Homo sapiens: one gene and its partners. The protein of the gene in region 1 purifies or fractionates together with the protein of each later gene. This does not show direct contact. Each region holds a gene or a part of one and is shown on either strand. Other genes may lie near its edges.

Region 1 (7,028 bases):
ACGTTAAATTAACTTGTGAGCTTAAAGATAGTTTTTGTTTTTAGTTAAATTTTACAGTGATACCAAACGTTTTATGTGTTTATGAATAAAATAGAACTTCAAATGAAGGTCAGTTTTTGAAGATCATTTTATTCATTAAGCACATCTATATTGCCACCTTGTATGTGCTATACCCTAGAGATAAACATAGCTAAAACACTAAACATGAGAAAAAATTCTCCACAGATTTCAACATCTCGAAAAATAGACAAGTATACTGGAAATTACAATGTGGTAGTGAGTGCAAAGCTGGACGTACATTTTAGGTAGAATTACTGAAAACTAAGAAAATTGTTCCAGAACCATATATCAGCCATATATTGTAACCTACCTTTCTCTCCTTAAAATCTTAGAATACCAATAGTCAATGATTAAATATAACCTCAAATCTATCTATCTATCTATATATATATATATACGCACACACAAATATACTAAACTTTCTTTAACAATCATATGCTGCAAACAACACTAAAAAGTCCAGTTACTAGAGTTGAATTAAGTTCTCAATCTCACAGTACTTGTAGAAAAAATATATAAAGTCCAGAGGTTTAGATCTTTTAAATCTGATGACACAATTGTTAGTAATCTACACAAAGACAGACAAAATAGCTAATTATCAAGAATTCTTTAATCAGCATGCTGTCTGTAACTTTATAAAATTAACCTTTTAATAGGTACAGAAAAGGAAGGTTTTTGTTTTGTTTTGGACAATTAGAAGAATAGGACAAAGCATAAAGAAACCCAAAGGCTTTATATCTTAATTTATTTTAAAAGGGCTTGGGGAGATTTAAGCTTCTTACTCAAATTTATTCTGTATGTTTCTCCCCTTCAGTGGTTTCTCCCTGCCTGCAGGACCATAGCCAAACTCCTTCTCCCGCTGTAAAAGGCTCTACAGGAGCTGTCCTCCCCAGCCCCACCACTTCTTCAACTTTATCTTTCATATCCTTAGAATTTGTGACCCAACAATGCTAAACTACTTGTGCCATACTCTGTAGTTTCTGGGCCTCTCTCCATTCCTTCTTTCCTATTGTCCTTCCCCTCTTTTTACATAGCTATCTCTTACTGGTCTTCCAGATTTCAGTTCAGATGTCAACTTCAACGGGAGAACTGAGAAGTCTAGGTTAAATTCCTGTCCTCTGCATTCTCATAGCATCCTATGCTTATCCCTACAATAAACTTACCCCACTCTATTATTATAGCCCATTTTCTCACTAACAGTAAGTTTTCTGAGGGTGGTGTCAGGTTTTACTTCATTTACGGATATACTGCAGAGTGTCTAGTATGAACTCAGTGAGTACTTATCAAATAGATCATTGCCTAAGAGGTTCCTATCCCAGCCTTAGGGAAAAGGTATGTGTGTGGGTGATGGTGGTAGGTTGATAAGACAAAGGAAAACATACTGAAGAAGGTGAGGTTCCTACTGACCCCTTAAAGGATAAGGAAGTACTAGCTAAACAAAAGAGAGTGGAGGATGGAGAGGCATTCCACTAAGCCTACGGGGCAGCAGGCATAAAGGTTTAGACAGTGAGAAACAGCTGGGTTGTGGCAGAAATAATAAATCCTTTGTCAACAAAGAAGCCAAGACAATTCAATGGGGAAAGTATAGTGTTTTCAAAAAATGAAGCTGGGACAAGTGGACACCCACATGCAAAAAGAATACGTTTCAACCTTTACCTCATACTGCATACAAAAAAAAATCAATGAATATGCATCAAAGACCTAAATATAAGAGCTAAAATTATAAAACTCTTGGGAGAAAACACAGTAGTAAATCCTCATGACGCTGAATGTTTGATATCCATATTGGATAGTGAGACAATAACTAGTTCGGATTAAGACCATTCTCTAACTTCGGTGTCCTCAGTAAATGGCATAGTTTCTGGTATATAGAACATGCCCGATACATGTTTTTAAAAACAAATGGTTCAATGCAGATGTCTTTGTAAACAAATATGTCTTCAAAGGCCTATGATATAAAAAGATTATTTTAAAAAATGAAACTTCCCAAAATATCAAATTAAAGCATATGGAGTGAAGCATTAATTAGCTGCTCTTAAGAAAAACTATGGAAGCTGAGACAGGGCCCTGGAAAACACTGATACAGAAGCAACTTAAACAGAGATACCAAGCTTCTTCAATAATGCTTAAATAAAAGTAAAGCTACGCTAAAAGAAAGCTTCCTTGTAAGATCAAGGTGGACTATAATGGCATCCATATGTTGTGCTATACCCAAGGTGGCTAAATAATTATTTTTAAGTTAAGCATGGGTATATACCCTTATAGTTAGTTACTGGTTCAAAAGGGGAGAAATCAACATTTTCTTATCATTTTGATCTTGCTTATTTTTACTCAGCTATATTTAAATGACCAATATTTTCTACAGCATATTTTGAGAACTCTAGCTTAATACTGCCAATGATATTTTAGAATTATTAGATTTCATAAGGGTGCATGCCCCAGTGCTTCAAGGGATTGTTTGCCTCACTATTACTTCAACAGAGAGGCCTAATTTTGAGTTAGGTTGCAGGAACTGGTCACTCTTAGGCTCTTATTTCTATAGGTCGTAAAAATTATGGAGAATGGGAAAGAGGACTCTCCTGGCCCCGATTTCTCCCTTGTCTTTACAGGATGGCTAATAACAAATTAACAGTTTGCTTTTTGGGGGTGCTATTAGATTATTAACTAAAACTAAGACACCTATTAGGAAGTAACTGACCCCTTATTTACAAAGAAGGGCCACTGCTTCTGTGTTCATCCTTGTTTAAGGTTTCATAATGTTTATACATCTTGGCAGTAATTAACATTAGTTCCTTACTGTATATTACATGCTAAAAATGTTGTCCTTTAATCAGCTATTAGAACCTTGTTACAGCTAGGTAAAGAAATGTTCTAAGTAAATCAAGTATCTACCCAAGACTACTGCCCTTGTCTAAAACTATGCCATCTACCATAGTAGCCACGGGTCATGTGCGACTACTTACATTAAAATTAAATAAAATTAAAATCAGTCTCCAATTCACTCTTGCAACATGTCAAGTGCTCAATAGCTACATATGGCTTAAGGGCTACTGTAGTAGACAGACCCGATTTAAAACATTTACAAATGTTGGAGACTGTTTTCAGACTCATCATAAAAGCACTATAATATCAGCCTTATTACTACATTGCTATATTTTGTTTTTTTCTCTTTGCCTAAAAGTTATTGCCCAGTTGAATCATACTTATCTACATTTGCTTATTTCCTAAAATCAAATATTCTCTCAAAGGAGGAAGATCTGCAAGTGCTGTAGCTATTCAAAAAAAAAAAAAAAAAAAAAAAAAGCTTTTGCAGGCTCTGAATGCATTTCCGGATGATTTCCGGATGTAGTGTCAGAGTGTCAGAAATGGTTTGAGTAATCATCAGAGCCCAACAGGGCCACTGCCTTTGAGTTAATGAGGCTTATCTGTAAATGGATGTTTGCATGACTTTTTCAAAATCAGTCATTTTAAGTGAATACAGAAGGTATATAATACCTTTGGTTGCTGCTTTAATAAGTGGAATAAAAGAAACTCATAGGTTACGTTTGGTCTACACTCGCGTGAAGGACAAATACCTCCTGTGAATTCTAAGGTCTTTCACTAATTCCAACAAGGTTCCATCTTCCTGTTTCTCATCATAGTTTTTCCAATAGCCGTCGCTTTTGGCTCTGTCCTTCCCCTTATCCACCACTCACCCACCCACAGATACACTCATACCTTCCTTCTTTGGCCATCTCCAGAGCACTATCACTCCACCTATCACCACCTTGGAAAACTGTGTTTTGCTATGATCCCTACCTATCAGGCAAAGCTGATGTCTGTAGAGAAGAGAGGTTGAGGAGGTTCCTGAGAGGTTTCCAAAGGCAGCAAATTCAATGAATTTGAATGAATGCACAGGGGAATTAAAGTGTATTGGGTGAGGACTAGGGCTCTTACTGGAGTCAGTGTACTTAGTGGTTAACGGTTTTGCTGTGAATCAGACCTACGTTCAAAATCTTGGCTCTAATACTTAATAGCTGTGAGACTCTCACCAAGAAGTGATCTCTGGACCTCAGATTCCTCATCTGCAAATAAGGAACTCGACCAGCCTCCTAAGACTGCTGTGGGTAATGAAATTACACACATAGGTGGCACTAAATAAATGAGAGAAAAGTAGAGAGTGTCATATTTTATAAGAGACACAGAATCATAAATGTTTTTGCATTTGGAAAATGTACATCCCAACAAAAGCACTCTTTTTTTTAAAAAAGCTTTAAAAATTGGGATAGAAAAAGAAAACAATGTTTCCACAAAGATACTTAATATTAAAAGGTTATTTAGAGTTTGGGAAGAAAAAAAATGTGATGAGAATCTTGGAATTTGAGAAAGGCGATAAAGTACAGTTTAAAAGAGATACAAGTTCTTCATCAGGGTGAATAAACAGGAAATAAATCATTAAGGGGTCCCTAATTTACTAGCAACTGGGCCAAAGAGGTAATTACAATAATCATATTTATGAAAGTATGTAATGCCTAGAGCTATCTATTCAAACATTCTATTACCAGGACTGATGAAACAAAGACAGAAAGTCCATCCTTATTTGGGTAAACTCTCCCCAGCGACACCTCACATTCCTTCCCTTAGTAAAGTATCTTACCAACAGGAACCACTGCTCACAGGAGAGGCTATTATGTGTTAAAGTTTCAATGTACACCCGACCACCAATGAACATAACTACAACATCATCAGTAAGCTTGTATCACTTACTGAAGACAGAACATGTAGTGCTATGATAATTCTCGTTAGGAAAAACTTACAGCATTGTAAAATATCCCTCCTAAAGAAAACCTGCTGGAAGCTGGACCCGGTGTCTCATGCCTGTAATTCCAGCACTTTGGAGGGCTGAGGCAGGCAGATAACTTGAGATCAGCCTGGCCAACATGGCGAAACCTCATCTCTACTAAAAATGCAAAAAATAGCCAGGAATGGTGGCACATGCCTGTAATCTCAGCTACCCGGAAGGCTGAAGCATGAGACTGGCTTGAACCCGAGAGGTGGAGGTTGCAGTGAGCTGAGATCCCACCACTGCACTCCAACCTGGGCGACAGTGAGACCTGTTGAAAGAAACAAAGAAACAAAGAAACAAACTAAAGAAACAAAGAAACAAACCAAAGAAACAAAGAAACAAACCAAAGAAACAAAGAAACAAACTAAAGGAGCAAAGGAGAGAAATGAAGGAAAGAAAGGAAAAAAGAAAAGGAAAGAAAAAAGGAAGAAAGGAAAGAAAGGAAAAGAAAGGAAGAAAGGAAGAAAGAAAACCAAAAAAGAAAACCAAGAAAGAAAACCTGCAGGAGACAGGATAGGGACATAGGAAATGTGATAACAGTATGATTCAAACCCAAGGCTTCATATATAAAGCAAGTTATCATTTTGTCCCCACTCCCCCCGCCCCGTTGTATGGGGACACTAACAACATAAAAGAATAAAGAGAGACAATAAACCTCATCAACAGTCCTTCCAACCATACCACATGTCCAGGACTTCATATAGGCTACAAATTATGTGAAAAACACATTTAGCTTCACTCTGACCAAAAGACAACAGAGACATGTGCAAAGAAAACATTATTAAATTAGTTACTAATTTTTCTTGTGTGTATGTATTCTAACTTTTGAATACTTCAGTTTTATGAGCTCCCAATATAACAAAGACAAATTTCCTAGCAGGGTCAAAGATTTCTAACTTTATCTTTCCTTAACAGGCATCCACATGAAGAAGTACAGCGCCAAGGTTCAAGAATTAGTAACAAAAAAAGCTGGCACATAAACTGAATTATTTCATGATGGCTTTGTATTAACAATAAAAAATGGTAATATAACACTGTAACTATAGTTATAGGATGCTAAGGCAGTGTTATAGCACAAAATACAATCAAAGACCACCATGAAATTGAAAACTAAGCAGGAAATCAAACCAATTTCTTCAAGCTAAATTTCATCATTTCAGGAATTCAGAATCCTGACCCTTAATGGCCCTGACACTTGGTAGTAAGTCACTTACCTAACCTCTCTGTGCATCATTTAAAGAATGGGAATAACAACAATACATCAAATAAAGTATCAGAGAGAACAGTGCCTGGCACCTAGAAAGTACTCATCCCCTGTTAACTATTATTATAATCACGATCCCAATCTTCTCAGGAAGCACATTCCTATAGTGGGCAGAAATCAGAAACTCCAGTAATATACCACTGAATGTTGCATCTAATTAATAATTTGGAGGTTATGAGAATATTTAAGTATGGGGTTAGAAAATGCACAGTTCAAAAGGGGAAAAATGATGCAGCCACAAAGATCCTAAAAACTAAAAAGGGCAATCAGACTGTAGGAAGGAAAAAAAATGTGGTTGACCCCAATAATTCACTTCCTCGAAGTACAGAATAACACCTTTATGCAAAGTTAGCTCAGGAGACTTCAGAGAAACCACGAGTGCAAGTTTATTTACACTTTACCCAAGTTGATTTATAAACTTATAAATTTATAAACCTTATGCAAGTTTATTTGTAGTAAAACTGATTTTACTACATTTCAGCTATGTATCTGAAATGACATGTTAGACCACTAATATCTTCATTAAAAATATCCTTTTGATTGTACACTTTATCATATTTAGCTGCTAGCTGCCATAATACTACTAACCAAATGAAAGTCTGTCCTCAAACACTGAACTTAAAAAAGTATAATCTAACAACAAAATTACAATCTAGTATAATTACACCATATTACAACAAGGAATCAGAAATCAGAGGTTGTATTTTCAGAAAACAAAAAGGTTTGTATCTTATGTCTCCAACATGTGATTTTTCCATCTTTAGTAATTTTCATACTAGTACACAAAACCTACAAATCTTAGGATTCATTAGGGCATTCATATTGGAGTGATACGCATTCTACATTTAAAATGGAGTTAATTCATTACCATTCTCAACA
Region 2 (7,028 bases), on another chromosome or scaffold:
AGCATAGCGAAAGCCTAATCAGAAGATAAGGCTTATGGAAAAACAATGCAAGGTAGGGCTGTAAAGGTAATTTAAAGCCAAATTAGAGAGAGCCTTAAATGTGGTAAGGAATCTGGACTTCATTCAGTAGGCAGTGGAGGGGCAGTTCAAGTCTATAAACATGATCAATGATGTGCTCTAAAAAGAAACCATTTTGTTTGGGGTGAGGTTCAGGCATCATCTCAAGCTTCTAAAGATGATGATCAGAATCAGATGATTCTAACATGCCAGCAGGGTAGAAAGACACTAGCCTAAGGAAAGCCTATGCATATCTCTCAATCTTCATCAAACAAAATTTGGAAGAAACCACCTATTACTAGCTAAGTTTGACCTAGCAAAATCAAAATTTAAAAAGCAGACCATTCCCATAACAAAAGAAAAATAGATATTGAATATATACAATTTATTTAATAAATTAATGTCATTCAAAATACAGTGCCAGAACATGGTGCAGTTGAACATGCTAGTAATGTTTGTCATGAAGCACCTGTGCTCATGTTAGATTGGCGGCGCCCCACTACTGCTAGTGGTTCCTGGGATTAATGCCAGAGCAGCGCTAGTTATCTGCTCTTCTGCACAGCTAGTGCAGAGAATTCCTGAACAGTTCACCTTACTAATCCTAACCCCCACACGCACACAACAGGTTAAAAAAAACACACCCTGACAGCTAACAGATCTATACACAATCACTCTACAGTAATGCTTGTTATTAAATTAAGATGTAATGACCTGGTTAACCCACTCTAAATCTTGAAGATGGAGAACTACATCAGCAGCAGATAGTTATATGCATGAGCCAATGTTAACATAATACAGAAAGTGGAGGCTTTTTCTGATTAAAGCTCCACGCAGACCCGCACAATGAGTGGCTGGCAATTCTTACTGCAAGCCTAGCAACTTAAGTCCACACCTGGTAAATGACCAGCTGACTGGAAGACCTGTATTCTAGATAGACAAGTATAAGTTAGTGAAAAGAGAATACATGCACCTAATAGTATAGTTAGACTGATCCTGCAGTCATAGCTTTCCCTGTGTAATACCATAAAATTATGGAAGATCTTCCTCAACTAGAGTATAGGATTTAGACATTTCTATACCAACACGGACATTAGTGTTAAGTGCAGTTGAATTAATTACACTGAAAACTGTATTCCAGGACTTCAGAACAGAAGCACGGGAATGAAACACACATACTAAAATAACCTCAGCACAATTTGTGATACATCACACTAGGAACAGGAAACTACTTTTATAAATGAACTTTTTGAACTGTACATACACAGGGCTAACAATGTTAGATAATCCAGATTCTTATACTCTCATGATTACACATAAAGTTTCTCAATTATTGAATAATCTATTTCATATTATGGAAGCATATCTTTCTGTAAGACTCACTGATATATATTATACTGATGCAAATATTAAGTAGGGCATAAAAATAAAATTTATCAAAGATAGAATTTTATGTACTCATATTTAGTTCTTTCATAGCCTCTTTTGTTTAGCAAAGAAAATGACAAAGCACATAACTCAGGCGTGCACTCCCTGAACTTCCCCACTATACAGGTGGTAGTGCAACCATTTCTCCATCCAGTTCAAACTCTTCTGTCCCATCCGTTGAAAAAAGATAAGTTGGTGGTTTCCATGGAGACTCTTCAAGGCAGGATGGATAGAGTTTCCCCACAGTGCATCGAAAATCTCTCCCCAAGTCCCACAGTACACGTTCAGATATATGCTGCCGCAGAGACCACCGGTCAAGTTCCAGGTCATATTGGTAGGTGACGTATTTAGCTCGCTCATTTAAGTGGGTTTCTCGCATAAACACACATAGAGAATTTGAGATCACAACAGCTCTAACACAGGGGTCAGAGTACCTCTTAGCAGGGATGTTGGCTGCCATTTTCCACTCATTTTTATTCACATCATAAATTTCCACAGTTACTGAAGACCCATCTACAGTGCCAGAGGGGAGTCTTATGCCGGAATTGGTAGCAATATGCAACCCTCCAATATAGAAAATTTTATCACCAAAAGCTGCAGCTGAAGCAAAGGACCTACTAGTCTGTCTCATGGCCATTTCTACCCATGAGTCAGACCTTGGAAAATAACAGTACATGAGGTTCAGTGTCATCACATAAATGCAGTCATGAACCACAACTGCTGCACTCCATTGCCAAGCACAAGGTAAAGGGCTTACCATCGTCCACTCATCTTTCTCAGTGTCGTATCTTTCTACGGTCCTCCGATTAAGTTCTCCACCTACGCTATCTCCTCCAATTGCATAGATATAGCCTTCACAGCAAACCAAAGATGGCTTTATGCGGACAAAAAGCATTGGGGTCTTTGGAAACCAGGTATTTTGCTGTGCATCAAACCAATAAAAGCAATTCACAGTTCTGAAGGCAGTCTGAAGTTTGCTTGTTTTACTGTGATTTGTTTTTGTGTTTTTCAGAGGAACTTGACCCCCTGCTATGTAGATATCATTATCAGGAGTTACAACGGTCCCAACCTTATGCAAATCAGCTGGTGGGCTACATAACTTGTAAACTTTTTCTGCTTGGGGGCTGTAACAGACAGAAGAGTAAAGACTACAAGGATTTTCTGAAGATGCTTCAATGAAAATCATCATTTCCTCTTTAGTCATCCCAAGTCTTGGTTTGAAAAACTTGGGCATGGACTTATACAGACCTTGAACCACCACTGACTTATCATTGGGTGGCAGACCTTGAAACCAAGCTCTCTGTGTTACTTCTGAAAGTGCATCAATTCTGATTTGGCTAAGAACAGAAGACAAATACTGGGATCGTGATTCTGTGTTATACTCTAGCCACAGCATAGCAGCTTCTCGAACGGTTTCTTCCTTTTCTACATTTAAATTGTCACTACTGAGAATATCTATCAGTAGGTCATGTGACAGCTGCATGAACGCGTCCTGATGATACACAGCAGTGAACTTGTGCTCCACCATTCTTTTAGCACTCTGTTTTAATTCCTCACAACTGAAGAGATCAGCAAAACTCAACAATCGTACACAATTCTCTGCATTTATTTTTTTAATTAAATATTCTCGACAACGTTGTAACACATCTTCTACCTAGAATGAGAAGGAAAAAAAAAACAGGCTGATAGGGCCAGGACAGACACATTTTACTTTTATGTAAGACGTAAGTATATTAATCAGATGCCCATAGTGTAATTTTTATTTTCAGATACACACATCTGGGCTGAGATAAGGTCTTCTGGTAGTAATAAACTCAGAAGACTATAAAATTTTGCAGTATTTTTTCCTGCTCAGTGGCCTACTTAACTGTTCTATTTAGGAACCAGCAGTACAACAATAAATAGGCTCTTAAAAAACAAAACAGCCTTAAAGAATAGGTAAGGAAATTCACACATAAGTCATACTTTCCTAGACTTTATATATAATTGAGAGAACTATATGAAAAAATGTAAATAAATCATAGTATAGAGAAAATTATTGTTGTTGAATAACTGGATTCTGGTTTCCTCAATTTGAACACAGTCACATAAAACCAGAAAATCATGCACAATGAGTAAGAGTAGTTATTTGCCATTCTTATCGAGAGGTAAGATAACAAAGCAACACGAAATAGACTTACGTGCAGTTATAAATCACCTACATTTAAATGACCCATCTTAGCCACTGTAAGCTTCCTAGATTTGTTTTTTCTTAAGAAGGTAGATCTCAGTTGAATCAGATGTGCTACCCACTATACTTATTCAGCATCACAGTGATTAACTAGAAACTGTTTACACTGACAAGTCAGGTTGCTTGGATTTAAAACTTAATTGGCCAATTAGTACCTGGAAACTACTTATTAGGAAAGAAGCTTCACATCTCTAAACTTCAATTTTCTCTTATATAAAATGGGGAAATAATAGTTATCTCCCTCAAATGAGCCCTGTAAGGATCAGATGAGAATATATATAAAGTATCAGTACACCATCTGGTACTGAAACATATGATCACTTCATGTGGTTGATAGTGAAAGTAATATTGGTAGTCATAGAATGCCCCATCTCAGGCTTCCAGGGCAACACAGTCTAAGAGGCAGAGTCCTGTTTTGCATTTGAGCAAGCAGAAGTAGTATACGGTTTTCGTTAAAATGGCAGAAAAAAAATGTTAAGGAGCAGTGTCAATATTTACAGTAACAAAGTATTCTGGAATCAGATTTTCTTAAAATTCCTTAATGCCTTAGTAATTCTGAGAAATGCCTGCTTTTAAAAGAAGGACCAACAAAAAATTAGCTGGATGTGCTGGTGCATGCCTATAATCCCAGCACTTTGGGATTACAGGGAGGAGGATTACTTGAGCCCAGCAATTTGAGACTGCAGTGAGCTATCACCATGCCACTGCATGGTGGCATGCCACTGCATTCCAGCCTGGGCAACAGAACAAGACATGTCTCTAAAAATAAAAAGTAATGACAACTTGCAAACTATATAAAGACAGTGCTTCCAATAAGCATTTCTCCCGTTCAAGTTTGGAATTACTAGTGCACCAGCAAGCTACCCCAGCCTCAGTTTCCCCAGAGTTGTGGGTAGAGTAGAACACTAACGATAAAGTTAGTGTAATAAGGAGTAAAGGTTGGCCAGGTGTTGTAACTCGCACCTGTAATCCTAGCACTTTGGGAGGCCTAGGTGAGAGGAGTGCCTGAGCTCAAGAGTTTGAGACTAGCCTGGGCAACATAAGATCTTGTCTCTACAAAAAAATCAAATAATTAGCCAAGTGTGGTGATGCATGTCTACAGACCCAGCTACTCAGGAGGCTAAGGCTGGGGGATGACTTGAGCCCAGATCGAGGCTGCAGTGAGCTGTGATCTCACCACTGTGCTGCAGCCTGGACAACAGAGCAAGACCCTGTCACACAAAAAGTTGAGTATCCCTAATTCAAAAATTCAAAATCCAAAATGCTCCAAAAACTGAAATGTTTTGAGTGCTGACATGACACTTGAAATACTCACGGGAGCACTTCAGAGTCTAGATTTTTAGATTAGGGATGATGTAAATCTAACATATAATGCAAATATCCTAAAATCTGAAAAAATCTGAAACTGGCTGAACTGGATTTCTGGTCCCAATCATTTTGGATAAAGGGTACTCAACCTATGGAAGATTAAAAAGGAAGGAGACTACATAAAGCATGAACTGAGTTCTGGTTTCCAGAATTATACCCAGGTGTTGGCATTCAACCAGTGTCATGCATACTCATTCAGTGCATATTTATTAAGTACTTAACAAATATCACGAACAGTGCTCTCCAAATTTAACCTTTGATCTAAAGGTTCTCCCTCTGAAGAAACTTAGTGAAATACAGTGTTATTCCAAAACAGGAGATGAAATGAAGAAAAAAACTCTTATATTCCTCTTAAAATTTAAAAAGGGAACATGATGGGGAAATAAAGAGTAAAACAGTTTGTCATACATAAATATATCAACCATCACTTGTTTTGTTTAAATACTTCTCCTTAATTGCTCAATATGGTCACATAGCCATTATAAATATTTATCATAATTTCCACCAAGTTTTCTGTGAAAAATAGTACCATGAAAAATTAGTATATCTAAGCTCTAAGCAAAAAAAAAAAAAAAAAAAATTGAAACACTTAAATTCAATAAACACTGTTAAAAATTACTTTAATTTGGCTGGGAGTGGTGGCTCATGCCTGTAATCCCAGCACTTTGGGAGGCCAAGGCGGGTGGATCATTTGATGGCAGGAGTTCCAGACCGGCCTGGCCAATGTGGTGAAACCCCACCTCAACTAAAAATACAAAAATTAGCTGGGCATGGTGGTACATGCCTGTAATCCCAGCTATTCAGGAGGCTGAGGCAGGAGAATCACTTGAACCCAGGAGGCAGAGGTTGTTGTGAGCCAAGATTGTGCCAGTGCACTCCAGCCTGGGCAACAAGAGTGAAATTCCGTCTCAAAAAAAAATTACTTTAACTTGAAATCAAAATTCTCAGGTATATTAGGTAGTAAAACACACGAAACCAGTATAAAATTTTCACCTATCTCTTTTATTAACAGATTTACATTCCCATCACAAAACTACTTAGTTTACTGGGTAATCAAATCCTATTGTTTTTCCCTTACACATTTTGTAAAAAGAAAAAAACCTTTTACCTTCTAAAACACGTAATAAGAAAATTACATAGATAAAAGACATTACTGGGCCAGGCATGGTGGTTCATACCTGTAATCCCAGGGCTTTGAGAAGCCAATGCAGGAGGATTGCTTGAGCCTGGGATTTTGAGACCAGCCTGGGCAACACAGTGAGATCGTGTCTCTACAAAAAATAAAAATATTGGCCCAGGGAGTGGTGGCTCATGCCTGTAATCCCAGCACTTTGGGAGGCCAAGGTGGGTGGATCACGAGGTCAGGAGATCGAGACCATTCTGGCTAACAACGGTGAAACCCCATCTCTACTAAAAATACAAAAAATTAGCCGGGGGTGGTGGTAGGCACCTGTAGTCCCAGCTACTCGGGAGGCTGAGGCAGGAGAATGGCATGAACCCAGAGGCGGAGCTTGCATCTGAGCTGAGATCGCGCCACTAGACTCCAGCCTGGGTGACAGAATGATACTCCGTCTCAAAAAAATAAATAAATAAAAATAAATAAATAAATAAATAAATAAAAATAGTAGCTGGGCATGGTGGTGCACACCTTTAGTCATCCCAGCTACTCAGGAGGCTGAAGCAGGAGGATCACCTGAGCCCATGAGTTCAAGGCTTCAGTGAACCATGACTGCACCAATGCACTCCAGCCTGGGTGACCGAACGAGACCCCATCTCAAAAACATAAATAAAAAATGTTTAACAATGTTTCCTCACAAAATAAACCACATAATAAACCAATAAGCTACAACTCATGTATGTAACTGAGTAAAAAAATGCTTACCTGTAGGCTGGACACAGTGGCTCACGCGTGTAATCCCAGCACTTTGGGAGGCCAAGGCAGGTGGAT
Region 3 (7,028 bases), on another chromosome or scaffold:
TATCCTGATTCTCTTGGAATTTTAAGGGAATGTTCAAATTCCAAGTAAAAATTTCCTTTTTCTAAATTATCTGGAACAGCAAACTAATGCTGTGATTTGAACATATCCCTCAAAAGTTCATGTGTTGGGCCACGTGCAGTGGCTCACACCTGTAATCCCAGCACTTTGGGAGGCCGAGGTGGGCAGATCACCTGAGGTCAGGAGTTCGAGACCAGCCTGGCAAACATGGCGAATCCCTGTCTCTTCTAAAAATACAAAAATTAGCCGGGCATGGTAGTGTACGCCTGTAATCCCAGCTACTAGAGAGGCTGAGCCAGGAGAAATGCTTGAACCCAGCGGGGTGGAGGTTGCAGTGAGCAGAGATTGCGCCACTGCACTCCAGCCTGGGTGACAGAGTGAGACTCCGTCCCTCACCCACGCCCTCAATAAAAAAAAAAAAGTTCATGTGTTGGAAACTTGGTCCCTAATGGCAATGCAGCAGTGGTGAGAGGTGAGAACTTTGGAAGGTGATTATGTCATGAGGGCTCTGCCCTTCTGAATGGATTGATTGATCCTTAACAGGTTAATGAATGGGTTATCAAGGGAGTTGGTTAGTTACCATGAACGGGTCTGTTATAAAAGCCAGTTGTGCCATCTCTTGTGAGCCCCCTCACCATGTGATAAGCATGCTGCCTTGGGACTCTGCAGAGTCTCTACCAACAAGAAGGCCCTCATGAGATGTCGCCCCCTCAACCTTCGACTTTGCAGCCAACAGATTTGCAAGAAATACATTTCTTTTCTTTATAAATTACCAGATCTCAGGTATTTAGTTATATCAACAGAAAATAGACAAATATACCTTATGGGTATAGTAATCTGAAGTGCTAAGTATGTAAAACTAAGGAACTCAGATTAATACCATACAGTCCAAATAAATTCTTAAATTCTTATCAGCTCAGGCTGCAAACCTGGCAATTGCTCTAAAAGCAGGGCACACATAATAATGATTACTTACTATATACCAGGTATTAAGTGCATCACAAGTATCATCTTAGTATCTTCACACATTAAGTGCTATTATTTTCTCCCCATTTTAGCGGTGAGGAAGCAAAGGGGAAGCAACTAGAAAGTACTAGAGCCGAGATTTGAACCTAGGCATTCTGAATCTTAACTGCTACGTTATAATGCTAACACTAAATAAATAAATCAATACTAGCTTACTATAACCAACTTTTTTTTTTTTTTTTTTGAGACGGAGTCTCGCTCTGTGGCCCAGGCTGGAATGCAGTGGCACAATCTCGGCTCATTGCAAGCTCCACTCCCAGTGGCGCCTGCCACCACACCTGGCTAATTTTTTGTATTTTTAGTAGAGGACGGGGTTTCACTGTGTTAGCCAGGATGGTCTCGATATCCTGACCTTGTGACCCGCCCAACTTGGCCTCCCAAAGTGCTGGGATTACAGGAGCCACCGCACCAGGCCCAACATCTGAATAGTTAAAAAAACAGGCCAAGCAACAGGTGCAGTGGCTCACACCTGTAATCTCAGCACTTTGGGAGGCCGAGGCGGGTGGATCACGAGGTCAGGATATCGAGACCATCCTGGCTAACACAGTGAAACCCCGTCTCTACTAAAAATACAAAAAATTAACCAGGCATGGTGGTGGGCACCTGTAGTCCCAGCTACTTGGGAGGCTGAGGCAGGAGAATGGCATGAACCCTGGAGGTGGAGCTTGCAGTGAGCCGAGATCACGCCACTGCACTCCAGCCTGGGTGACAAGGCGAGACTCCATCTCAACAACAACAACAAAAAACAGGCCAAGTTTAGCTTACTTGAGAAAAAATATTTTTTTAAAAAAATCCATTGCCATGGCAATTATGTTATTGGTGTCCTTGGTAGTAGAACAGGGATTTGTTTTCTGGGCCTCTCTCTAGAGTGACAAAGTATATGGTTATAACATTAATTTAAATCTCAGAGGACACCTGTGTAGCATTAGAGGTTTATTAGGAGAAACTGAGAAAGAAGGGAGGGCTACTCATCAGATAACTTACCAAATAAGGACACAGTACATGTCCCTCCTTAGATGTGAACATTTTCCCAAAGCTACAAGTTTCCAAGAGAACTCTTCTGGAAAATGTAACGTAGCAGGCAAAGACTCCTAAGACACCTTAACCTCTCTTCCTTAAGCACCCTTACACTTTGAGAACAGAGAATAAAGCATTTGGGAAGAACAATGTTTTTTGGTCCTTTATCTAGACTGGCTCTTTGCATAATTCAACCAAGAACTCTACTTTTAGCTTCTTTAAAGGTGCAAAAGCAACTATATTTAAAACAAAGTACTCACCCTCTCTTCCCACTTTTTGATGGTGGGCCACTTCTCCTTTCATTTCTAGGACCTGAGAAATTCCTTCCTGATTTGGGTGGACCATTGTTGCCACGTCGATTCTGACGATCTACTGGTCTCTGACTAGAAAAACTTCTCTTTGCAATTTCCCTCTTTGGAGGTAGAACATTCTCTCCAACCTTTACAACTGTTTGTGCATTCAAGTCAGCATTTTTTTTTTCATCCCTCTCTCGCCTCTCATTGAAATCACTGCTTTCAGAAGCTGTTTCCCATTCTTCATTTGCCTGATCTGAAGAGTTCTGATTAGATAAATCTGGTGTCTTATTCCCGGAAATATCCCCAAGAGTATTAACTGGTTCTTGAGCCACATTATTAACTGTGCCATTTGTGGGCACTGCTACCACCTCATTTGATTTTGAAGCAGCCTCCCTCTCTCTTAGCCGTCTAAATCGAGGTGGCTTGTCTTGCCTTGGTGGTCGAGTAGGACGCTGCCTTCGAGGCCTTTCTCTAGCTGGGTCAAATTTTCGCTCAAATTTTGGAGGTCGTTTATCTGCTGCTATAGGAATAAACTGCTCATGTCTTCTTGGCGGCTCTCCATCTTCTGGTTTAGGAACTTCTGACTGCCTTGGGTTCCACTGATTGTCCCGATAAGCTGGTCTTCGTAAAGTGGAAGGGCGTGATGGACGGCCTCCAGGATCCCTTCCACCACGCCTGAATGTTCCCCCTCTGCCTCTCCTTGTAGGCTCTCCTTTAGGAAGAAAGCCTGGTTTAGCTTTATCGTCATCCCTTACATAAGGCTTTTCTAGCAGTCTATTATCTATTCGAACATGATTATCAGGCTTGAAAGAAGAATGAGGCTTTACAGGTTTTTTGTTTTCAGGCCGTTCCTCTCTTTTGGGAAGTTTGCCTTTACTTAAACTGTCCTTGTCACTTGCACTTTCATGAATTTCACTGTCTGTGTCAGTCTCTGAACCCCGCTGTCGTCTTCTTTTGGGGACAACTTCAAAATCAGAGCTCTCACTCCGTGTTTCACTTTCTTCTCGCTGTCTGAGAGGCCCTGAGGGTATATGCTCTGCTCTTGGCTTATTGTCTCTATACTGAGGATAATCTCGAGTGTGTCCCCTACCACCCCTGCCACGCCCTCCATAAGAACCTCTATAGCTTCGACCTCTGGAGTAATATTCACCTCGGCCTCGACCTCTGTATCCTTGATCTGGAAACCAATCTCTCTCTCTAGCTTCTTTCCAATAGGTCCTGGGAGGCAAAGTTGATTCTTTTTTAACTGCTGGTCTTGAATCTGGTCGAGGCCTCTCTATAACAAGGTCTTTGCTGATGACTTTCTCAGGTTGTTTTTCTTCTTTGACTACTGGTGCTGCCATAGTCTGTTGGTTTACAGTCTTAACTGCAGGCTCTACCTGAACAGTACTCACAGGTTCCAGAGGCTTCTCAGTATCCTGAGATGGTTTTTGAGCCAAAGTTGCAGTTTCTGTTGAAGGAAATTTCTCTGCTTCTGGTTGAATTGGTGGTGGAACTGACTGTGGCTGAATTGGTGCTGGTGGCTGAGGTGGTGGTGGGGGAGGAGGAAGATCCTTCTTTTCCGTCTTTTCAGGCTTTACAACTACTTTTTCAGTGACCTTTTCGGCCTTTTCTCCTTCTTTCTCCTTCCTCTGTTCCCGTTCCTCTTTCATATCTCTAAGTACAGGTTTTTTAATGGGACCTGATCTTCTCACAGGTCTATCATTAACTTCTTCCCTTCTGTTAGAGCTTGGTCGTGGGCCCCAACGAGTTTCTGATTTAGATTTATATACTTTTTCAGGTTTTGGTCCTTCAGAAGATCGTATAAAGCCTTCCTTTTTTGGTTTCTCCTCTGGCCTTTCTATTGGTTCTTTTGAATCAATGCATCTGCTGGTTACTTTAGGAATGCCTGCAGATGGTTCACTTCTCTGCTCGTCTGGTTTTTGCGTATGGTTAGATCCATGGGAAACACTTCTTTTCCGGGAAGGCTGACTTTCTACAGCTGAAATCCGCTCCTCTTGAGGAGCGGATAAGGTCTTTTGATCAGGTGCTTCAAAACAAGCAGACTGATTATTTGCATCAGTATGGTGAGGTCTAACATCTTCCACAGATCTGCTTAAAAACTTTTGTACTTGTGCCTCACTTGATTCTCTGATAAAGTCTGCCTTTGGGTGAGCCTCTAATTGATTATGTTCTACAGAATAAGCAGCAGTAATCTGTTCCTGGTCCAACGCAGCTTCAGACCTATGATGATAAGAATTCAAAGGTATAATCAACAAAGCAATCTTTCCCATGCGTAAGTATATAGCAAAATAATCCCTCTAAAACAGAAAGCAATGACTCTTAACCATAATGAGAATCTTTCTCTCGCTATATAAAAAGTTTAGAGGAGAATTACTCACAATAGCCAAGAGGTGGAAACAGCCTAAATATCCAATAGCTGAATGGATAAAGAAAATGTGGTATACACATACAATAGAATATTATTCAGGGATAAAAAAGAAGGAAATAGTGTCATATGCTACAACATGGATAAACCCTGAGGACATTATGCTTAAGTGAAGTCAGTCAGTCAGGACAAATATCTTACATGAGGAACATGAAATAATCAACTTCATCAAAGCAGAAACCATAATGGTGGCTGCCAGGGGCTAGGAGTAGGGGGAAATAGGAAATATAGGTATAGGTATAATATAGGAAATATAGGTAAAGGTAAATATAGGAAATATAGGTAAAGGTAAGAATAGGAAATAGGTATAAAGTTTCAGTCATGCAAGATAAAAAAAAGTTCTGGAGATTTGCTGTATAACACTGCTTACAGTTAACTACATGGTACCATATGATTAAATTTTTGTTAAGAGGATATATCTAATGTTCTAAGTGGTTTCTGCCACAATTAAAAATAAATAGGGCCGGGTGCGGTGGCTCACGCCTGTAATCCCAATCCTCACTTTGGGAGGCCGAGGAGGGCGGATCACCTGAGGTCGGGAGTTCGAGACCAGCCTGACCAACATGGAGAAACCCCGTCTCTACTAAAAATACAGAATCAGCTGGGCGTGGTGGCACATGCCTGTAATCCCAGCTACTAGGGAGGCTGAGGCAGGAGAATCGCTTGAACCCGGGAGGCGGAGGTTGCGGTGAGCTGAGATGGCACCATTGCACTCCAGCCTGGGCAACAAGAGCAAAACTCCATTAAAAAAAAAAAAATGGGCCTGAAGCGGTGGCTCATGCCTGTAATCCTTGCACTCTGGGAGGCAGGAGGATCACTAGGGCCCCAGGAGTTTGAGACCAGCCAGGGCAACATGAAAAAACCCTGTCTGTACAAAAAATACAAAAATTAGCCGGGTATGGTACTGCATGCCTGTAGTCCAACTACTCAGGAGGCTGAGGTGAGAGGATCACTTGAGCCTGGGAGGTCAAGGCTGCAGTGAGCTGTGATTGCATCACTGCACTCCAGCCTGGCTGACAGAGCGAGACCCTTCTCAAAAAATAAAAATAAAAAATAGAAATAAATAAATGAAGTTTATTCCTTAAGGAAAAACAAAGTTAAGACCATGCTGATGTGAATTTCTAATCCATCAAGACCAGTAATTTCCACCTAGAATGAAAGAGTACACTTGAGTAAGCTTATCTGTCCCAGTTAATTACAAATAATTATAAAACATTATAAAACATTACCAAAAAAATATAGCCCATAAAAGGGCAGGAAGTTCCAACTGTATGGCTATAAATTATTACAGTCATCACCAATTGTGCGCCATTTCAAAGTTAACTTTGTATTATTGTATTTCTCCTTATCTTGGCCTTAAAAATGTTCCCTAAAATACTGTTAAAAAGAAACATCTCACTAATGGAAAAATTACATCTAGCTATATTATATAAGCATTGTAGATACACCTAAATTTCTTCACACCTACTCTACAATAAAGACATCCCAAGTGGCTGCACACGATGGCTCACGTCTATAATCCCAGCACTTTGGGAGGTAAGGCAGTCAGACTGCTTGAGCCCAAGAGTTCAAGACCAGCCTGGGCAACACGGCAAAACCCCATCTCTATAAAAAATACAAAGATTATCACAAGGTCAGGAGATCGAGACCATCCTGGCTAACACGGTGAAACCCCGTCTCTACTAAAAATACAAAAATTTAGCTGGGCGTGGTGGCGGGTGCCTGTAGTCCCAGCTACTCAGGAGGCTGAGGCAGAAGAATGGTGTGAACCCGGGAGGCAGAGCTTGCAGTGAGCTGAGATCGCGCCACTGCACTCCAGCCTGGGAGACAGAGCAAGACTCTGTCTCAAAAACAAAAACAAAAACAAAAACAAAACAAAAAACCCCACAAAGATTAGCGGGGTGTGGTGGTGAACGCATGTAGTCTCAGCCACTCAGGAAGCTGAGGTAAGCCGATCACTTGAGCCTGGGAGGTGAACGCTGCAGTGAGCCAAGATCATACCAACGCACTCCAGCCTGAATAACAGAGCAAGTTCCTATCTCAAAAAAGAACCTACCAATTTCAACATCTAATACTAAATTACAGCATACAATTGAGTACAGAACCAGGTTACAAAATGCCCTAATGAATACAGAGAATATGTCCAAAGAGTAAGCGTAGCATGCTAAATTAAATAGAAGGAAACCAGATTTATGCTTCAGTCCTAAATTGGAATGATCTTCAGAAACACTACACAGTTTTCC
Region 4 (7,028 bases), on another chromosome or scaffold:
CATCAGGTGATCTGCCCGCCTCAGCCTCCCAAAAGTGTTAGGATTACAGGCATGAGCCATTGTGCCCGGCCGGTAAGGATATACTTCTACCACCAAGAACTTAAAGAGTGGCACACCAATGAAACAAATTTTCATTGAGAAACGAGCACTCTACCAGGCCCTGGAAGACTGGTTAAAGCAGAGGCTGAATGAACACCTGTCAGGAATGCTGGATTTCTGAACGCTAAGAATGGCATAAGAATGCTAACCTAGGCCAGGTGCAGTGGCTCATGCCTGTAATCTCAACACTTTGGGAGGCCAAAGTGGACGAATCTCCTGAGGTCAGGAGTTTGAGACCAGCCTGGGCAACATGATGAAACCTGGTCTCTACTAAAAATACAGAAAATTAGCCGGGTGCGGTGGTGGTTGCCTATAATACCAGCTACTTGGGAGGCTTAGGCAGGAGAATCACTTGAACCTGGGAGGCAGAGGTTGCAGTGAGCTGAGATTGCGCCATTGTACTCCAGCCTGGGCAACAAAAGCAAAACTCCATCTCAAAAAAAAAAAAAAAAAAAAAAAGGATGTTACCTAAGGTTCCATTGTAAGATAATTTTTCAAGCAGGTTAAGTATCCAGGAGTTTAGTTTCACAAGCCGTTTGTCCAATTTTTTAAAAAAGATAAAAGCCAATCCTGTAAAAACCTTTATTCCTTGTCCAAGGTTATAATTATGCAGGTAAGTCTGAGTGAATTGAAGCAGCTGACTCTAGTAGGAAAAAGAAATGTTAACAAGTTCCAGCATCACCTACTTTGAACTATATTCTTAAAAAGTCTAAAGCTTCTAGATTTGAAAAGCAAATTACCATAAATAATCTTAAAGGGCATCTTTCAAAATATTAGTTGCTTTAACCAAGCTATTCCTTAGCATAATTCTGTACAACTTATTTATATTAATACATTCCTTGGGAGTTAAATGTAAAAAAATTACATCCCCACCATCACTGTTTTAATACTTTTTCGTTTTCTAAAACAGCACAGACTCCTGCTACATGAGCAAGCTTTCAGCATTTGAAGATAGCTGCCATGGATCATCTATAGATTGCAATGTGTTCTTTCTACCGTCGTCCTTTTAAAAATTGAGGAAACTTTTGCTTACTATCTTTCCTGTCCACAATGTAAAAAGAAGTTCAATGTAACTCAAAGTGTAAGCCCAAAGGGTTTTTTAATGACTAAAATATATTTCAGTTATTTCTATGTTTAGATAACAGTATTGAGGGGGGCCAGGCACAGTGGGTCAACCCTGTAATCCCAACACTTTGGGAGGCTGAGACAAGAGGATCGCTTAAGGCTAAGAGTTCAAGGTTGGAATGAGCTATGATTGCCCTGCTGAACTCCAGCCTGGGTGATAGTGAGACCCTGTCTCTAAAAAATTAAAATTAAAATATTTTTAGAACAGTATTGAGGAGAATGCAATGAAATTTCCAATAATGTACAATGGTTCTAATAATAAGAATTATCTGTGTTCTCTTAAGACCATTCACATATCTTGCTAATGCTACCCAGCTTTTTTTTTTTTTTTTTTTTTTTGAGATGGAGTATCACTCTGTTGCCCAGGCTAAAGAACAGTGGCGCGATCTCGGCTCACTGCAACGTCTGCCTCCCAGGTTCAAGCAATTCTCCTGTCTCGGCCTCCCAAGTAGCTGGAACTACAGCTGCATGCCACCATGCCCAGCTAATTTTTCATATTTTTAATAGAGGCGGGGTTTCACAGGTTGGCCAGGCTGGTCTCGAACTCCTGACCTCAGGTGATCCACCTGCCTCAGCCTCCCAAAGTGCTGAGATTACAGGCGTGAGCCACCATGCCCAGCCTGCTACCCAGCTTAAAAAAAAAAAAAAAAAAAAAGTATTCTTCTACTTGCCTACTCATCAACTCTACACACCTGTAAAAAGTAAAAAACCCTTCAGGAAAAAAATCAATTTCAATAAAAAAACACTGCAAGTAAATAGTTCTGTGCAAAAAGCATTTCCTCCCTAACCCCATGGATTAATCCATTTTAACAGGGTTGTTAATGAAGCTACAGATATTTCTATGTAATGATTTGGCCAAACTACCAAGTACTTATTCAGCATATACCATGTGTGAGAAAGCGCAGCAAAGTAATGTTAATAGTCTCTGCCCACAAAGAGCTTATTACCAATTTAGAAAAACATGTAAGGTTAACAACACAAGGCAATATAAAAATGTCAAGAAGTTTTGGACGCCGAGGCAGGCAGATCACAAGGTCAGGAGTTCAAGACCAGCATGGCCAACATGGCGAAACCCCGTCTCTACTAAAAATACAAAAAATTAGCCAGGTGTGGTGGCATGCACCTGTAGTCCCAGCTACTCAGGAGGCTGAGGCAAGAGAATCACTTGAACCCAGGAGGCGGAGGTTGCAGTGAGCCAAGACCACACCATTGCACTCCAGCCTGGGCGACACAGCAAGACTCCGTCTCAAAAAAAAAAAAAAAACAATGTCAAGAAGTGTACAGACAATAGGTAACAGGGGAAGTTAAAGGAAACAAACTACTTTAGCTGAGCATGGTCAAGAAGCACACCCTCCCCTTTCCTCAGGAAGTTTGAATTTTGAACTCTACTCAGTAAATTATCTTTCACCCACGTTTTTGTACTCATAGTCTATCTAACAAAAGCACTGTAGTAGAGCTAGTGAAAGAAAGAAATAAATGAGCTAAAACAAAGCAATTTACAGTTCCAACTTTGGATGAATTTCTCTTCTGCTACTCCTCTCACTCTTCTATACTGTATACACACACACCATTCATTTCCCCCAGAAAAAGGAACCAACTACCAAAAAATACCCAGAAGCTTGGAATACAGTAATTTGGATGAAAAGGTTGTCACACTTCTTATTTCTCTCTACTGGTAATGCTTTTTCCAGATTTTTCCGGTCTACAACATACCAAGCTGGAGTAGAGTCTGACAAATGTACATAGGAAGCTAAACATAAAGAAAAACTTCAGAGTTTTAACTTTATAAAAGTTTATTTCATTACAATATGGATGTCCCAATGATACCTGACACACTGGGATTTTACCTTACCGATATTCTCAGAACCCCATTACCCGGACAATGCAAACACAAAGTTCAACAATGAGACATTAATAAAAGTCTAATAATAAGGAAATGGAAAGCATTTTTCTTTTGCATTCAGTTTTTTAAAACAGAAAAACTCTAAGGATTTGAAGCAAAAGGCTTTACTTGATTCTACATAATTAAACATGAAAACTACACTTAGGCCGTGGAACATTACAAATTCTAATTACTCCCATAAAACATTATTTAAGAGGCCGGGTGTGGTGGCTCACGCCTGTAATCCCAGCACTTTGGGAGGCCAAGGCGTGCAGATCACTTGAGGTCAGGAGTTTGAGACCAGCCTGGTCAACATGGCAAAACCCCGTCTCTACTAAAAATACAAAAATTAGCTGGGCGTGGTGGCATGCACCTGTAATCCCAGCTACTCGGGAGGCTGAGGCATGAGAATCACTTGAACCCAGGAGGCAGAGGTTGCAGTGAGCTGAGATTGCACCACTGCACTCCAGTCCTGGGCGACAGAGCAAGATTCTGTTTCAAAAAAAACTGCGAGAATTTTGGAAATCACCCATTCCAACCTAAGTCATTCCATATAAACATCTCAATTTTGTCTTCTATAAAATGAACTGGACTAAATTCTAAGGTGGTTTAAGCTCTAAAAAAAAACTCTTAGGCCGGACATGGTGGCTCATGCCTATAATCCCAACACTTTGGAGGCTGAAGTGGGTGGATCACTTCAGGTCAGGCGTTTTGAGACCAGCCTGGCCAACATGGTGAAATCCCATCTCTACTAAAAATATAAAAAATTAGCCGGGCGTGGTGGCGGGCGCCTGTAATCCCAGCTACTCAGGAGGCTAAGGCAGGAGAATAGCTTGAACCTGGGAGGGGGAGGTTGTAGTGAGCCGAGGTCATGCCATTACACTCCAGCCTGGGCAACGAGAGCAAAACTGTCTCAAATAATGATAATAAATAAAAATTAAAAATCCTCTAAATTTTATAACAGTGTAAGATTATAGCTATGACAAAATTGCTATAAGTTTAACCTTTTGCAAAAGTATTGCAAAAATTAACACTTTTACTAAAGGAAAAGTGTTAGTTTTTCTAAAAGATGAAACAGTACTAGTCTTCATCTAGCCCTAAATGTAAACTAGGAAATTAATTACATAAAATTTTGGCAAATTGTATGCTTAATCTGTAAGTCACACAAAATGCATTCTCAAATATCTGCCACATGGGTAGTATCCTAGAGTACACTAATTTGGCCACGTTAAAACAATACATTCTCAATGTAATACTTAGGCTTCGACTCTCACCCTAGAAAAAGGTACCCATTATCACTTGGGGGAATTCACAGCTTTAAATACTTCCCAGTGCTACACATACAAACACACACAGTCAAGCAAAGGGAAACAAATTAAGCATTACAGCTTTTTTCTATGACAAGGTGAATGCAAAATAATCTTGCCCTCTGCATTGCAGAAGAATAGTTCTTGCAACCCATGGAAAAGCAAACACATCAAGAGATCTTAAATGTCAAAGAAGGCTTCAGGTAATAGCCTCAAGGAAAGATTTTACTTATAAAATAGTTAAGAATGTTTTTATTTTAAAACACTGAACACATAAGTTCTGCACAACAGCTGCAATGAAAATTCTAAGCACAGACACACTGCAACGTTCTAGAAAGAAATGTTACCCTCACAACAACAGCATTCTTTTTAAAGAATACTACTAACTGCAAAGATGAAGTGCAGAAAGCCTTCAGGAAAAAGTATTAAAAACACTACACTTCTGGCTATCAGTTTTGGTCACTTAGTGGTTAAAAAGCTGTCAGGCTATTTTTGCATTTTACGCAAGTGATCATTAGTTAATCTTTCACCTACCAAAGTCACTAGAGTCTAAACCTATTATATTCACAAAGAATATAACAATTTTAAATGTCATCTATTAAAACATCCTTTATTCTATATCACAACTGATTACATCTAATAATATCAAATGAGGTCTCTCTTCAGTTAAAATTAAGACTTGGTTTTGAAATATCTTGCATAGCCTAGGGCCCAGTTCAGCACCAATGAACTGATAAAGAAAACTAGGCAGTTAATCATTCAATTCAATATTACCTGTAAGATTTGCAAATGGATTTTACACTTGATTATCACAGCTGTATTTCTTCTCTTTGCTAAACATTCATGTACTCTTTATAAGCCTGAATTTAAAAACCCACCAAGCCTTTTAGTTGCATTACATAACACGATCATATTTCATCAACATTAAGAGCATGCATTCTCAATGAGCAGATGCTTAGCTTTTTCTTTAATGGCTCAAATTATTAGGAAATAAACAACTTTGTTTTTTAAAGTACAATAAAATTATTTCAATTCTCTGTTTTAATTTAAGCAATACTACATATCCATAGTCATTTTTGCCAGGATATTTGATTTTAAAATCCATAAAAAAAGCATTTTGGTCCAGAAGGCTCCGATAAGAATAGGTCAAGATTGAAATAAAGCTCAAATGTAAGTTGCTAAATGGACTGAAGTCAAAACAAATCTAATTGTAAATAGTACCTCACTTTACTCCACAAGGGTTTCTAAAGAGGAATTCAAAACTGATTTGTAAAGCAATCCTATTTTAGTGCATTAGAAATGCTCACTTATACTTAAAAACAGTTAAGTCTTCTCACAAGTAAATCATCTAAATATAAAAAGGATTTAAACTAAAAACCAGATGTGCTTAAATTTAGGGCAAATCCAAATGCCCTGGGTTTTTCAAAGGGCAAAAGATATAGTTTTAATAGCAATTAAGTCAACATCAATACTGCCAACTTAACTACTTAACATGTAGGTAGAGTTCAGTCTGTGGCTTATCAAAGTCTCAAGACTTAACTGTAACTTGACCTTTTTGCTGCTATCTACCACTTAAAACACTGAGAAGACAGAAAAAAAAGTTACTTTGTGCAGTTTGTTGAATCTCCATTATTAACACGGCAATCTTTCAGTATGTATTAGCCTAGTTAATAACCTATGTAATAATTACATTATTTTCTCCTTTATGACTTTAGGGGAGGCCCGGCATGGTGGCTCACACCTGTAATCCCAGCACTCTGGGAGGCCGAGGCGGCTGGATCACCTGAGGTCAGGAGTTCTAGACCAACCTGACCAACAAGGTAAAACCTGTCTCTACTAAAAATACAAAAATTAGTTGGGCGTGGTGGCAGGTGCCTGTAACCCCAGCTACTCTGGGCGGGGGGCCGAGGCAGGAGAATCGCTTGAACCCAGGAGGCGGAGGTTGCAGTGAACCGAGATCACATCGTCGCACTCCAGCCTGGCGGACAAGAGCGAGACTTCTCAAAGAAAAAAAAATTGCCTGGGGTGGTGGCGCACACTTGTAATCACAGCTACTTAGGAGGCTGAAGCGGGAGGATCACTTGAACCCGGGAGGTGGAGGTTGCAGGAAGCCAAGATCATCCTACCGCACTCCAGCCTGGGCACTCCAGCCTGGGCAACAGAGATTCATCTCAAAAAATAAAAATAAAATAACAAAATCACTTGAGGGTAGGGTATGACAGAGTATAGTAATTCACATACACCTATACACATTTAATGACCAGTCATGGTTCAAGTCCTCAGGAGGGGCTTATAAACTAGATTTATATTTTTTTTTCAGAAGTACTTGAACACTAGATTCTAACAGCCACCTCACAACTAAATTGGCTGCCAATCAGCACCTACCTTTATATTAACTTCTCTGAGGAGTTATCTTTCAGTCATTAATGTCTCTACACTTTATATCACTAATCATTAATGTTCATAATTAGTATTAACACATTATTAATGTTCACAATCATTAATATTTTATGTTCAATTACTGTCCTAGAAAAAAACATTTCCAAGAAATTCTAAAGAATCAAAAACTCAAGTAGCAGCCAGATCAGCAGGCTTGCTTACTGCATTAAAATTTT

What was found.
Region 2: the proteins of FMR1 (region 1) and KBTBD2 purify together in Homo sapiens (affinity purification with mass spectrometry; 3 studies listed by BioGRID and IntAct, with this or other methods). This does not show direct contact.
Region 3: the proteins of FMR1 (region 1) and PRRC2C purify together in Homo sapiens (affinity purification with mass spectrometry; 2 studies listed by BioGRID and IntAct, with this or other methods). This does not show direct contact.
Region 4: the proteins of FMR1 (region 1) and CAPRIN1 purify together in Homo sapiens (affinity purification with mass spectrometry; 2 studies listed by BioGRID and IntAct, with this or other methods). This does not show direct contact.

What each region holds. Positions count from the first base shown.
Region 1 is NC_000023.11:147,914,891-147,921,918, reverse strand, and holds part of FMR1 (fragile X messenger ribonucleoprotein 1), read right to left. Parts: intron 1-7,028.
Region 2 is NC_000007.14:32,867,745-32,874,772, forward strand, and holds the end of KBTBD2 (kelch repeat and BTB domain-containing protein 2), read right to left. Parts: intron 3,137-7,028; coding exon 1,601-3,136; 3' UTR 428-1,600; downstream 1-427. UniProt on the Homo sapiens protein: Substrate-specific adapter of a BCR (BTB-CUL3-RBX1) E3 ubiquitin ligase complex that acts as a regulator of the insulin signaling pathway, modulating insulin sensitivity by limiting PIK3R1/p85alpha abundance in adipocytes.
Region 3 is NC_000001.11:171,537,523-171,544,550, reverse strand, and holds part of PRRC2C (protein PRRC2C), read right to left. Parts: intron 4,581-7,028; coding exon 2,322-4,580; intron 1-2,321. UniProt on the Homo sapiens protein: Required for efficient formation of stress granules.
Region 4 is NC_000011.10:34,054,731-34,061,758, reverse strand, and holds part of CAPRIN1 (caprin-1), read right to left. Parts: intron 1,282-7,028; exon of another isoform or gene 568-1,281; intron 1-567. UniProt on the Homo sapiens protein: mRNA-binding protein that acts as a regulator of mRNAs transport, translation and/or stability, and which is involved in neurogenesis, synaptic plasticity in neurons and cell proliferation and migration in multiple cell types.